Homo sapiens: one gene and its partners. The protein of the gene in region 3 purifies or fractionates together with the protein of the main gene of each other region. This does not show direct contact. Each region holds a gene or a part of one and is shown on either strand. Other genes may lie near its edges. The genes, in order: CIAPIN1, NARF and RGS20.

Region 1 (3,600 bases), on a different chromosome or scaffold from region 3:
ATCCAAGTCAGCCATTGCCCCTCTCTGGGCCTCAGTTTCCCTGCCAGCTTTAGCAGAATGGTAGGAAGGCACAATTACAACCTGCAAATGAGACCTAAGAAACCTACTATGTGCCTGTCCCTACACGGGAGACAGACAAGAAGACACTTGTTCCCTGCCCTCAAGAGAACGCTCTGTCTAGACACTTAGACTAAGACCTTAGAGGTTTTTTTTTTTTTTTTTTTTTTTTTTTTTTTGGCAGAGTCTTGCTCTGTTGCCCAGGCTGGAGTGCAATGGCACAATCTTGGCTCACTGCAACCTCCGACTCCGGGGTTCAAGCGATTCTCCCGCCTCAGCCTCCCAAATAGCTGGGATTACAGGCACCCACCACCACACCCAGCTAATTTTTGTATTCTTTGTAGAGATGCGGTTTCGCCATGTTGCCCAGGCTGGTCTCGAACTCCTGAGCTCAAGTGATCCACACGCCGCAGCCTCCCAAAGTGCTGGGATTACAGGCATGAGCCTGGCCCAGAATTTTTTTTAAAAAGTGAGAATCAACAATGAAACAGGAACGTCTCCAGGCATTTGGCGTGTGTCAGGAATTAGGGTTTCAGAAAGGATACCCAAATGTTAGTTTCCACAGGAAAGGCTCATTCAAAGATGGATGGATAGAACTCAGAAACAAATCCTTATGGAGAGGAGTGTTTTACCTAAAACCAGAAATATGGATCTAAAATTTTAACCTTTGGGGTAAGTTTTGGCTTAGGAGGTCTTCCCCGCACCCGTGCAGGGGGGAGCCGGATATTCTGAAAAGACTAGATTTGACAAGGGGTGTGCAAAGCACAACTTTAACAGACACAATGATGGGGTCTGACTGCAAACACAAAATCGACAGAATCACATGCTCTTGTCGTCAGTTACTCTTAGCCCAAAAACCGTTTACTTCTTCCTACTAAGCCTTCTCTGATGACACCCCCGTGAAGTGCTCTGTTAGTGGCTAGACCGTGACCTCCTTGAGCCATCCAGAGCTTGGCACTCAGTAATGTCAGAATGAAGGGCACCAGCCTTTCCCGAACTTGCAGATCCTACAAATCACCCGAGGGAGTGGTTAAAATGAGATTCCTGGACCACACCCAGACCCACTCAATCAATCCTTCTGGACAAAGGCCTAGCTGTCTGTTCTAGTAACAAGCATCCTTCCGATCTGGATACTTAATTATATCAACTCAACACGCTGGGGGTTCGGACAAGTTGCAGGTTCGAAATTACAATCGTGAGCTCAGGTACCCCCCGACTCCAAGGCTTTCGTGCTTTGCTGCCAGGAACCCCCAGGGACCAAAACGTCACGGGGACTGAGGCCCAAGGTCACAACGATTGGCTACTGGTAGGACCGGGTCTCAGAACCAGGTCTCCCCGATCCCAAGCTCGGAGCCGTTTCTCCTCAGCGTGGTGTCCCCGGGGCCTCAGAGTAGGGCCGGCTGCGCAAGGGACGAGGCAGCCGGGGAACGGCAGAAATTCCCAGTCAGGACCCCAGGGAGGTTAGGGCCGGCCCTGGCCCCTCACACCGACTTCTCAGGAATAAACCAGCCGGGGCTTTCAGCGGGGCGGCCGTGGCTGCGTTCCCATCGAGGAACGGGGTGGGAAGAGAAAATGAGAGGATGTGGGAACGAGGGTGGGCCGGGAGGGGACAGTTGAGGGAGCTCTGGCGCTCAGCTGGCCCCCACCACTCTCACCTGCCGCCTGGGCTCGCTCCCGGCTTCTCTCCAGCCGTCGACTCCACGCCTTGCGCCTCTCGCGAGAGGAGGAGGCTCCACGGAGCGACGACTTCCGCCCTCCTTAGGGCCGTGGTCCCGTAGCTACCGGTCGCGTCGCCGTGGGCGACGTGCCCGCTTCCAAAATGGCGGCGGCGGCGGTATCTGGTGCGCTTGGCCGGGCGGGCTGGAGGCTCCTGCAGCTGCGATGCCTGCCCGGTGAGGGGGCTGCCAAGCCGGGGAGAGGCGGGGAGCGCGGAGGGGGCGCGAGGCCGGCTTCAGCTGGGTTCGACGGTGGGGGGAAGAGGCCGTTGGGGCGGCCCACGAGCAAGGTGAGGTGAAGGGCATCGGCGCGGGCTCGGGCGAGCCGCCTGGCTAGCTTCGGCCCTGCTCCGCTGTCTGTGAGGGGCAGATGCAGCGGGGCAGGGCCTGTCACCCCCATTTCATGGAGTTGGCAGAGCCTCAGAGAGGGCTCGGGGTACGAAAGTCACGCAGCCTGAGCCTGTTGGTTACAGAACTGGCAGTCGCAGACCCATTCTCAAGTCCATTGCCAAGTCCACTGGAAGGACAGGTGGACACGGCCACAGAGAGCCTAGTCCATTGTTTCCCGAAAGCCAGCCGTTTCCTCACCACTTCACGAATTCTGTGATACTCTCTTACCACCTTTGCCACTATGTACTCAGTATTTTTATTTTTAAATAGGAGTTCTTAAAGAGGAAACTTTATATCATTGTCATAAATGGAAAACTAATATCGCCTTCCTTAATTAGAACGTATGCATTAACACTTTAGCATACATACATAACTGATGAAACGTTCACCTGTATTTCACCTAAAATCTTCTCATGACCCTCAGTGGTACTACAGTCATACTTTGCATCTGCTCCTTCCTTTTCAAAGTTTTGCGGATATTTGTGCCGTATCTTTCAGTACATGTATTAAAATATTGATATTTTGGCACATACTATTCTGTTTCTTTTTTTTCTTTTTTTTTTTTTTCTGAGACAGGGTCTGGCTCCTCAGCCTCCCAAGGAGCTGGGACTACAAGTGCGTGCCACCCTACTTGGCTTAATTTTGTTGTTGAGACAGAGTCTCACTCTGTCACCCAGGCTGGAGTGCAGTGGTACAATCTCGGCTCACTGCAGCCTCTACCTCCTGGGTTCAAGTGATTCTCCTGCCTCAGCCTTCCTAGTAGCTGGGGTTGTGCCACCATGCCCAGCTAATTTTTTATTTTTAGTAGACGGGGTTTCACCATGTTGGCCAGGCTAGTCCAAAACTCCTGACCTCAAGTTATCTGCCTGCCTCAGCCTCCCAAAGTGTTGGGATTACAGGTATGAGCCACCGCCTAGCCCCCTTTTGTTGTATTTATACAAAATTCCAAACTAAAGATGTGTAGTAAAAGTAATGTCTATGACCCCGCAAATCCACCAAGAGAAATGAAGGTATGTGTCTACAAAAAAGTTAGTACAAGTATATTCATAGCAATTTTATTCATAGTAGCCAAACACAGAAACAGTCCAGTTGTCTAGCAACAGAATAGTATTTTTTTTATGGAATACTATTCTGCAATAAAAACTAAAAATCAGTCAAAGAGAAAGCTGGACACTAAAGTGATAAGGACCATTTTTAATCAGTAATAACTATTGCAATAGGGAAAAGAGTCTAGCATGAACGGAGCCCAACCTTGAGTTTAGAGCATGCAGAAGTCACTGGGTGTTTCAAAGAAAAAATGAGGGAGGAGGGAGGAAGGCAGGTGGGGACTCAGTAGAGTCAGGATAGTGAATAATTATAAATAAGATTGGTCTGCTAGCTGGCAGTTAACAAAGTTAGGATTCTGTTTTCCCACAGGGAGACAAGCCCTATCCTTCTT
Region 2 (3,826 bases), on a different chromosome or scaffold from region 3:
AGCCCAAACCTCACCATAATCCTGATTTTTTTTCTCCTTTTTCTTAATTATGTTTGCCAGTGTTTGTCTATTTTATTAGTCTTTGCATAGACCATCTATTAACGTTGTTCTGAATTTCTCATTAAGGTGTGTAACTTTTACTCCTTGTGTAATCAGCAGATACCTAACATTCTCTATTTCTCCTTCTAGAAATGTGATACCTCAAAGCACAAAGTGCTGGTAGTGTCTGTGTGTCCTCAATCTTTGCCTTATTTTGCTGCTAAATTCAACCTCAGTGTAACTGATGCATCCAGAAGACTCTGTGGTTTCCTCAAAAGTCTTGGTGAGTCATCTTTTGATAAATTGGGAATGTATAACTTGAGTTTATAAGCGCCCTTTTTAATCTCTAAAGTTCGTTTTTCAAGGACGCAGGGTAGATAAGCAACTTCCAAAAGAGTCTCTTGGAACGTAAAAAGACCATGTCCCGTGTGTCATGAAACCCAGCCTCTGATCGATGGTAGACGAGTGTCACTTTTCTCCTTTGCTGTGCACAGACAGGTGTTTTGTTACACAGTGGGAGCTGACCCCTCTGGGACCAAACAGTGACCACCTTCTGACAACACGGACAGGACACTGGGAGATTCCCACACTGGCCCAGCAACCTCCAAGTCACCCCTTACCCCCAGAGGGTGTGCATTTGATAAACAGTCACTTCTGAAATGATTAGTATCTGGTTTCCCAAGAAGCTCTCTGAAGAGCAGAGCAGAAAGGGAATGGGCTTGTGTTCTTTACTTGAGGAATGAAAGGTAGAAATTTAAGAATATAATAAAAGAACTCGGATGTCAACGCTGGAATAGTACTACCTGAAATGTTGATGGATGATGCTTCTGCGTCTTCTGCTTTGGTCAAAGGGGAACTGCCTCCCTCCATTTGCTTATAGAGGGGCTTTTACAGCCTTGAGCATCCTCATAGCATGATGGTCAGTGTGCAAGTTCAGAAAGGGAAAATGAGCGAGTTGCCAAATAAGAGGTTTTTTTTGTTGTTTGTTTGTTTGTTTGTTTGTTTTTTGAGCTGGAGTCTCGCTCTTGGTGCCCCAGGCTGGAGTGCAATGATGCGATCTTGGCTCACTGCAACCTCCGCCTCCCGGGTTCAAGAGATTCTCCTGCCTCAGCCTCCCAAGTAGCTGGGACTACAGGTGCGCGCCACCACTCCCGGCTAATTTTTGTATTTTTAGTAGAGATGATGTTTCACCATGTTGGCCAGGATGGTCTTAATCTCTTGACCTCGTGATCCACCCGCCTTGGCCTCCCAAAGTGCTGGGATTACAGGCATGTGCCACCGTGCCTGGCCAAGAGTTTTTATTATTCTACAGCGGCTTTTAAAAATTATAAATATTGGTCAGGTTTGGTGGCTCATGCCTGTAATCCCAGCACTTTGGAAGGCCAAGACCAGAAGATTACTTGAGGCCAGGAGCTCGAGACCAGCCTCGACAACATAACAAGATCCTATCTCTGCTAAATAAGTACATAAATGTAGATATATTGGGGATTACTGGTGAAATAAAATGATATTTGGAATAAGGATCATCAGGACAGGCTTGAAGTCTAAGCAGCAGCCTGGGGGTCCTGATGCTCCCTGTGCCCTAGGCGCCTGGGCTCTAACAAGACCTGGTCATCTAGCACATAATGTGCTGCAGCTGAAACCCAGCTACAGCGACAGGTGCCCACACGTTAGGTCGCTCCTTCATGCTTGTCATCATAAAGCCTCGGGTTAGGTTAGTTACACTGAAGATCAGAGTTGTCAAATGCTATATATTCTCACGATGAAAGCCCTTATTTGGGGCTAGATTCTTAAAATGATGTAACGGAATGTTATATATCAATAAAATGTATCCACAGTAAAATGGATTTCTTAATGTAATATTTTAAAATTTATAATATTTCTTTTTTTGTTGTTCTTGAGACGGAGTCTTGATCTGTCACCCAGGCTGGGGTGCAGTGGCGCCATCTCGGCTCACTGCAAGCTCCACCTCCCGGGTTCACACCATTCTCCTGCCTCAGCCTCCCGAGTGGCTGGGACTACAGGCGCCCGCCACCACGCCCGGCTAATTTTTTGTATTTTTAGTAAAGATGGGGTTTCACCATGTTAGCCAGGATGGTCTCGATCTCCTGACCTCATGATCTAACCGCCTTGGACTCCCAAAGTACTGGGATTCCAGGGGTGAGCCACCGTGCCCAGCCTAATATTTATTATAGCTAGTTGCATTTTCTCTCAGCTTTGTTACCTGGGGAGGGGGAGAAACAAAAAATTTAAAATTAAAAAAATCAGGCCGGGTGTGGTGGCTCATGTCTGTAATCCCAGCACTTTGGGAGGCCGAGGGGGCAGATCACCTGAGGTCAGGAGTTTGAGACCAGCCTGGCCCAACATGGCAAAACCCCATCTCCACTAAAAATACAAAAATTAGCCTGGCATGGTGGCAGACACCTGTAATCCCAGCTACTCGGGAGGCTGAGGCACAAGAATCGCTCAGACCCAGGAAGCAGAGGTTTGCGGTGAGTTGAGATTGCGTCACCACACTCCAGCCTGGGTGACAGAGCATGACTGTCTGAAAAAAAAAAAAGGCTGGGCATGTTGGCTCACGCCTGTAATCCCAGCACTTTGGGAGGCCGAGGTGGGCGGATCACGAGGTCAGGAGATTGAGACCATCCTGGCTAACGCAGTGAAACTCTGTCTCTACTAAAAATTCAAAAAAGTAGCCGGGCGTGGTGACGGGCGCCTGTAGTCCCAGCTACTTGGGAGGCCGAAGCAGGAGAATGGTGTGAACCTGGGAGGCGGAGCTTGCAGTGAGCCGAGATCACGCCACTGCACTCCAGCCTGGGCAACAGGGCGAGACACTGTCTCAAAAAAAAAAAAAAAAATTCAGTATAAAAATTTAAGCCATTATAAAAGTATGCCCTTGCCGGGCGCGGTGGCTCACGCCTGTAATCCCAGCACTTTGGGAGGCCGAGGCGGGCGGATCACGAGGTCAGGAGATCGAGACCATCCTGGCTAACACGGTGAAACCCCATCTCTACTAAAAATACAAAAAATTAGCCGGGCGTGGTGGTGGGCGCCTGTAGTCCCAGCTACTCGGGAGGCTGAGGCAGGAGAATGGCATGAACCCAAGAGGCGGAGCTTGCAGTGAGCCGGGATAGCGCCACTGCAGTCCAGCTTGCGCGAAAGAGTGAGACTCCGTCTCAAAAAAAAAAAAAAAAGTATGCCCAGCCATTCTATACTTTTACTGTACGTTCTACTTTTAAACACATCAAGAACCATCACAGACTGAAATTTAATTTGCCTGTGAATTGGAAGGGAATGCTGTGGGTACGTTGTAATATTTCATTAATTTATATATGGAGTAAGGTGTTTTAAAATGTAGAGAGGGAAGAAGCATGAGAGAGAACATACATATTTCATTGTGAAAAATCATACACGCTCATTGTTTACAAAATAAAAGGTAAAGCACACGGTCTTGAACTTAGGCCGTTAGGAATAGATAAGAACCAAGACTGATTTTATTATCTTAGGAGGGATGCCTGTAGAATCTATGCTTTAAGTTTGTCTCTTAAACGTGAGAAAGCAAAAATGAGTAAGAATGAAGAAGTATTGGCTGGATGCAGTGGTTCACGCCTGTAATTCCAGCACTCTGGGAGGCCAAGGTGGGTAGATCACTTGAGGCTAGGAATTCAAGACCAGCCTGGCCAACATGGTGAAACCTCATCTCTACTAAAAAATACAAAAATTGGCCAGGCATGATGGCGGGCACCTGTAATCCCAGTTACTCGGGAGACTGAGGTGGGAGGATCAC
Region 3 (3,826 bases):
TCTGAGTTCTCTGGATAATGACTTCCTGTCATTAATTATCAACATGACTTTTATACAAATTAAGAAATCTATGGGCGTGTGCTCTTGGGCTGCTCTCTGGCCAGCACCCTCTCCTGTGTCACCTCTCTTGTGTCCACAGTCTAACCCATCTCTTCATTTCCCTCAACCTCAGGTGGAGCCTCCACCAAAATGCAGATTTTTCCAAAAATCCTTACAGGGACGATCATCACCCTAGAGGTTGAACCCTTGGATACAACAGAAAAATGTAAAGGCCAATATCCAGGATAAGGAACGAATTCCTCCTGATCAGCAAAGACAAGTGACTGGAAGCTGGCAAGTAACTGGAAGATGGACATAACTTTCTCTGACTACAACATTCAAAAGGAATTTACTCTTTTTATGTTGTGTTGAGACTTCATGGTAGTGCTAAAACTAGGAAGAAATCTTACACGACTCCCAAGAATAAGCATAAGAGAAAGAAGGTGAAGTGGGTGTCCTGAAATACTATAAGGTGGATGAAAATGGCAGAATTAGTGGCCTTCGCTGGGAGTGCCCTTCAGATGAATGCGGTGCTGGAGTTTTTATGGCCAGCCACTCTGACAGGCATTATTGTGGCTAATGTTGTCTGATTTATTGCTTCAACAAACCAGAAGACAAGTAATTGTGTATTAGTTAATAAAAGACATGAAAAGAAAGAAAGAAAGAAATCTACGAGTCCCTTAAATCACATTATCACCCCACCCTGAGACATAAAAGTCCATTATAAGGGTGAGGTAAGGAGTAGGTTACATAATTCTTTCCAATGTTGCAAAAATTCAACAGCTGTATAAGTGTTGATTCTAGCCATTCAGCCCTAAAAGGGTTAAAGTCCCCAGTGTCCTTAGTCTAAGAGCAGCAGTACAAACTTGTGCTCCAGCCTTGAACAACCACAATTCAGTCAGCTTCAGAGGGGCACAAATGTAGACAAACCAGATAGCAGGGCGTTCTCCACTCCTTCACTGTTGGACGGAGGTGCACATCGTACAACCCAGCACCTCAGGAAGCCAAGCTATCAGATAACTTTGCATGAGATGCCTTTGCCTAAAACCCAAATGCTCACATGAAAAGGATTTTACACTTTAGAATAAAATAAATGCGTAACTAGAAATTGAGCTTTCAAAATCAAAAAGGTCAACTGGCTTTAATAACTATTGAAATAACTCATGTAAAATATCACTGCTGGGCAACAGAGCATATTACTCATATTTCACAAGTGATTCCCTATGCAAATAGCTAGACTCTAATCAGCTGGATTAGAATCAAGGTAATCTACTCCATGAATTTATAATCATGTAATATTACTCTGAGCACTCAGCCACATCAAACTTGATTGTGAATGGCCTCTCCAAGAGCCCATTCAATTGTACTATGAACTGACTCACTCCAAGCAGCGTCGCCTTAACTCTTGAGCTAGCTGCGCAAAGTAACATTCAGGGACCATCTCAGATGGTGCCGTGTAGTCAGTGACTCCCACTTATTGTACTAAATGCTAAGCTCTGACTCAGAGTGAGCCCTATTAGTTGCTGACTGACACTGTACTTGTTTGAATAGAAGCTCACATTGTGAGTCACCTGGTGGTGCACTGAAAACCAATCTGAAATATTCCCAATTGGACAGTGATTCACATTATAATCATATTGGGACCTAACTTGACACATGTGATTTCAAAACTAAGTTCTGCCAAACTGGCTTGGGAGCATGCTAGAAAGTCACTCCCTTCTTAATGCCCTGTCCTTCTGTCTAAGAACATGTAGTAAGTATCCCAAGATGCAAAGTATTCAAGAGTAGGGTATTCATGCAAGAGGTTTCTTGGAGTCAAAAAAAAAAAAAAAAAAAAAAGAGTAAGATACTCAGTATCCAGTTCACACACTGGAAAAAACCACGGTTTCCTTTTTCAAGGATGCAGGCATAATTCCTAGAAGTACCTCCCCTGGAAGACACACCATCCCTATAAATAACTTTGTAAGACCAGATGTTCACTAGAAAGTCTCTGCCGTATAATTCATTTTTTTTTTTGAGACGGAGTCTCCCTCTGTCGCCCAGACTGGAGTGCAGTGGCGCAATCTCGGGTCACTGCAAGCCCCGCCTCCCAGGTTCATGCCATTCTCCTGCTTCAGCCTCCCGAGTAGCTGGTACTACAGACGCCCGCTAATACGCCCAGCTAATTTTTTGTATTTTTTAGTAGAGACGGGGTTTCACCGCATTAGCCAGGATGGTCTCGATGTCCTGACCTCGTGATCCACCCGCCTCGGCCTCCCAAAGTGCTGGGATTACAGGCGTGAGCCACCGCGCCCGGCCTCTGCTGTATAATTCTTAAACTGTGGATGTGAGGGCTGGACCTTTAAGCCACTATCTGCATCTGTCCATGGAAGGTGAATGTGGTTAGATGCCCACATGCGGAAATAAAAGAACAGCAGGATTTCAGGAATTAATACTTAATGCCTGGAATGAAACCAGTTACAGGCTACTGCATTAAAATAAGAAAGCTTTTCTCTTTTACTCTCGCTAGTCCATAAAATCTAGAATAATAAAATCTCCTTCTGTGTAATTTTGAAGGCGTTTTCTAAAAGGCTTTCTTATAGGAAAGACCTTCAAAGCCAGCTGGAAGGATATTTTAAGAATTCAAGAAAAGCTCAAAAATGATTTCTAAAACTGCTACAGGAGATTAATAGAATATGCAATCAAATGTATACCCAAGTGGGGCCTAAAATGCTAATGCTGGCTCTGACAATAGCTTGATCTGTGACCTTACCTTACCTGAGGCGAGTCATGTGGTCATGTCTTATAATGTGAGGGACCAAGATAAAGCTGTGGGACAACAGTAGCCACGACATGACTGCCTGGTCCTTCTTGGTGCTAGAGATAGCACATGCTCGTACACTTTTTCCTTATTTATACTTTCTATCTGTTAACAGTTCATTAATCCGTAGTAAACAGGAAATCAGCAGTGTGGTGTGTAAGAGCCCTGGGGAATGAGTCAGAAGTCTTCATTCTATTTTGGCCCCTAATTAGCTGGAGATCTCTGGCCCAGACCCTTAACCTCTCTGAATGTTTCCTCATCTGTAAAACGAAGGAGGTAGAATAAGTAACCTGATTTTCATCATTCTGTATTTTTGATATAAGGGGTGTTTCAGCTAAAACGTTTACAGTGATCTCAGACAAGTTAGCACTTCAAGCTCCTAAGGTACATTTTCAGATTCTCTTAAACTGGCTGTTCATCAGCCCTGGCAACACAGCGAGATCCTGTCTCTATAAAAAATTAAAAAATTAGCCAGGTGCGGTGGCAGGCACCTTAAGTCTCAGCTACTCCTGAGGCTGAGGTGGGAGGATCCTTTGAATCTGGGAGTTCAAGGGTGCAGTGGGCCTCAGTCGTGCCACTGCACTCCAGCCTGGGTGAGAGAGTGAGACCCAGCATCAAAAAAAAAAAAAAAAAAAAAAGACTGTTTTTCTAATTTGGATGATGGACATGTGTTTCATTATGCATACTCTTTATAGTATACAAAAATATGCATTCTGTTACTGATCTTATTTATAGTTTGAAGTCTAGCCAATTTAGCATCAATATAATAATAGTAATAACAGCTTTTGCTTGGTATGTGCCATCCCGTTATAAGAGCTCTATGTTATTAATTTACTGAATGCTGTCAGCTAGCACATTAGGTAGATACTCTTTTTTTTTTTTTGAGACGGAGTTTTGCTCTTGTTGCCCAGGCTGGAGTGCAGTGGCTCCATCTCGGCTCACTGCAACCTCTGCCTCCTGAGTTCAAGCAATTCTCCTGCCTCAGCC

Evidence for each region.
Region 1: the proteins of RGS20 (region 3) and CIAPIN1 purify together in Homo sapiens (affinity purification with mass spectrometry; 2 studies listed by BioGRID and IntAct, with this or other methods). This does not show direct contact.
Region 2: the proteins of RGS20 (region 3) and NARF purify together in Homo sapiens (affinity purification with mass spectrometry; 2 studies listed by BioGRID and IntAct, with this or other methods). This does not show direct contact.

What each region holds. Positions count from the first base shown.
Region 1 is NC_000016.10:57,445,630-57,449,229, forward strand, and holds the start of CIAPIN1 (anamorsin), read right to left. Parts: upstream 1,757-3,600; 5' UTR 1,713-1,756; intron 1-1,712. Other genes in the region: COQ9 (ubiquinone biosynthesis protein COQ9, mitochondrial precursor), read left to right, coding at 1,877-1,949. UniProt on the Homo sapiens protein: Component of the cytosolic iron-sulfur (Fe-S) protein assembly (CIA) machinery required for the maturation of extramitochondrial Fe-S proteins.
Region 2 is NC_000017.11:82,468,575-82,472,400, forward strand, and holds part of NARF (nuclear prelamin A recognition factor), read left to right. Parts: intron 1-189; coding exon 190-322; intron 323-3,826.
Region 3 is NC_000008.11:53,883,843-53,887,668, reverse strand, and holds part of RGS20 (regulator of G-protein signaling 20), read right to left. Parts: intron 1-3,826. UniProt on the Homo sapiens protein: Inhibits signal transduction by increasing the GTPase activity of G protein alpha subunits thereby driving them into their inactive GDP-bound form.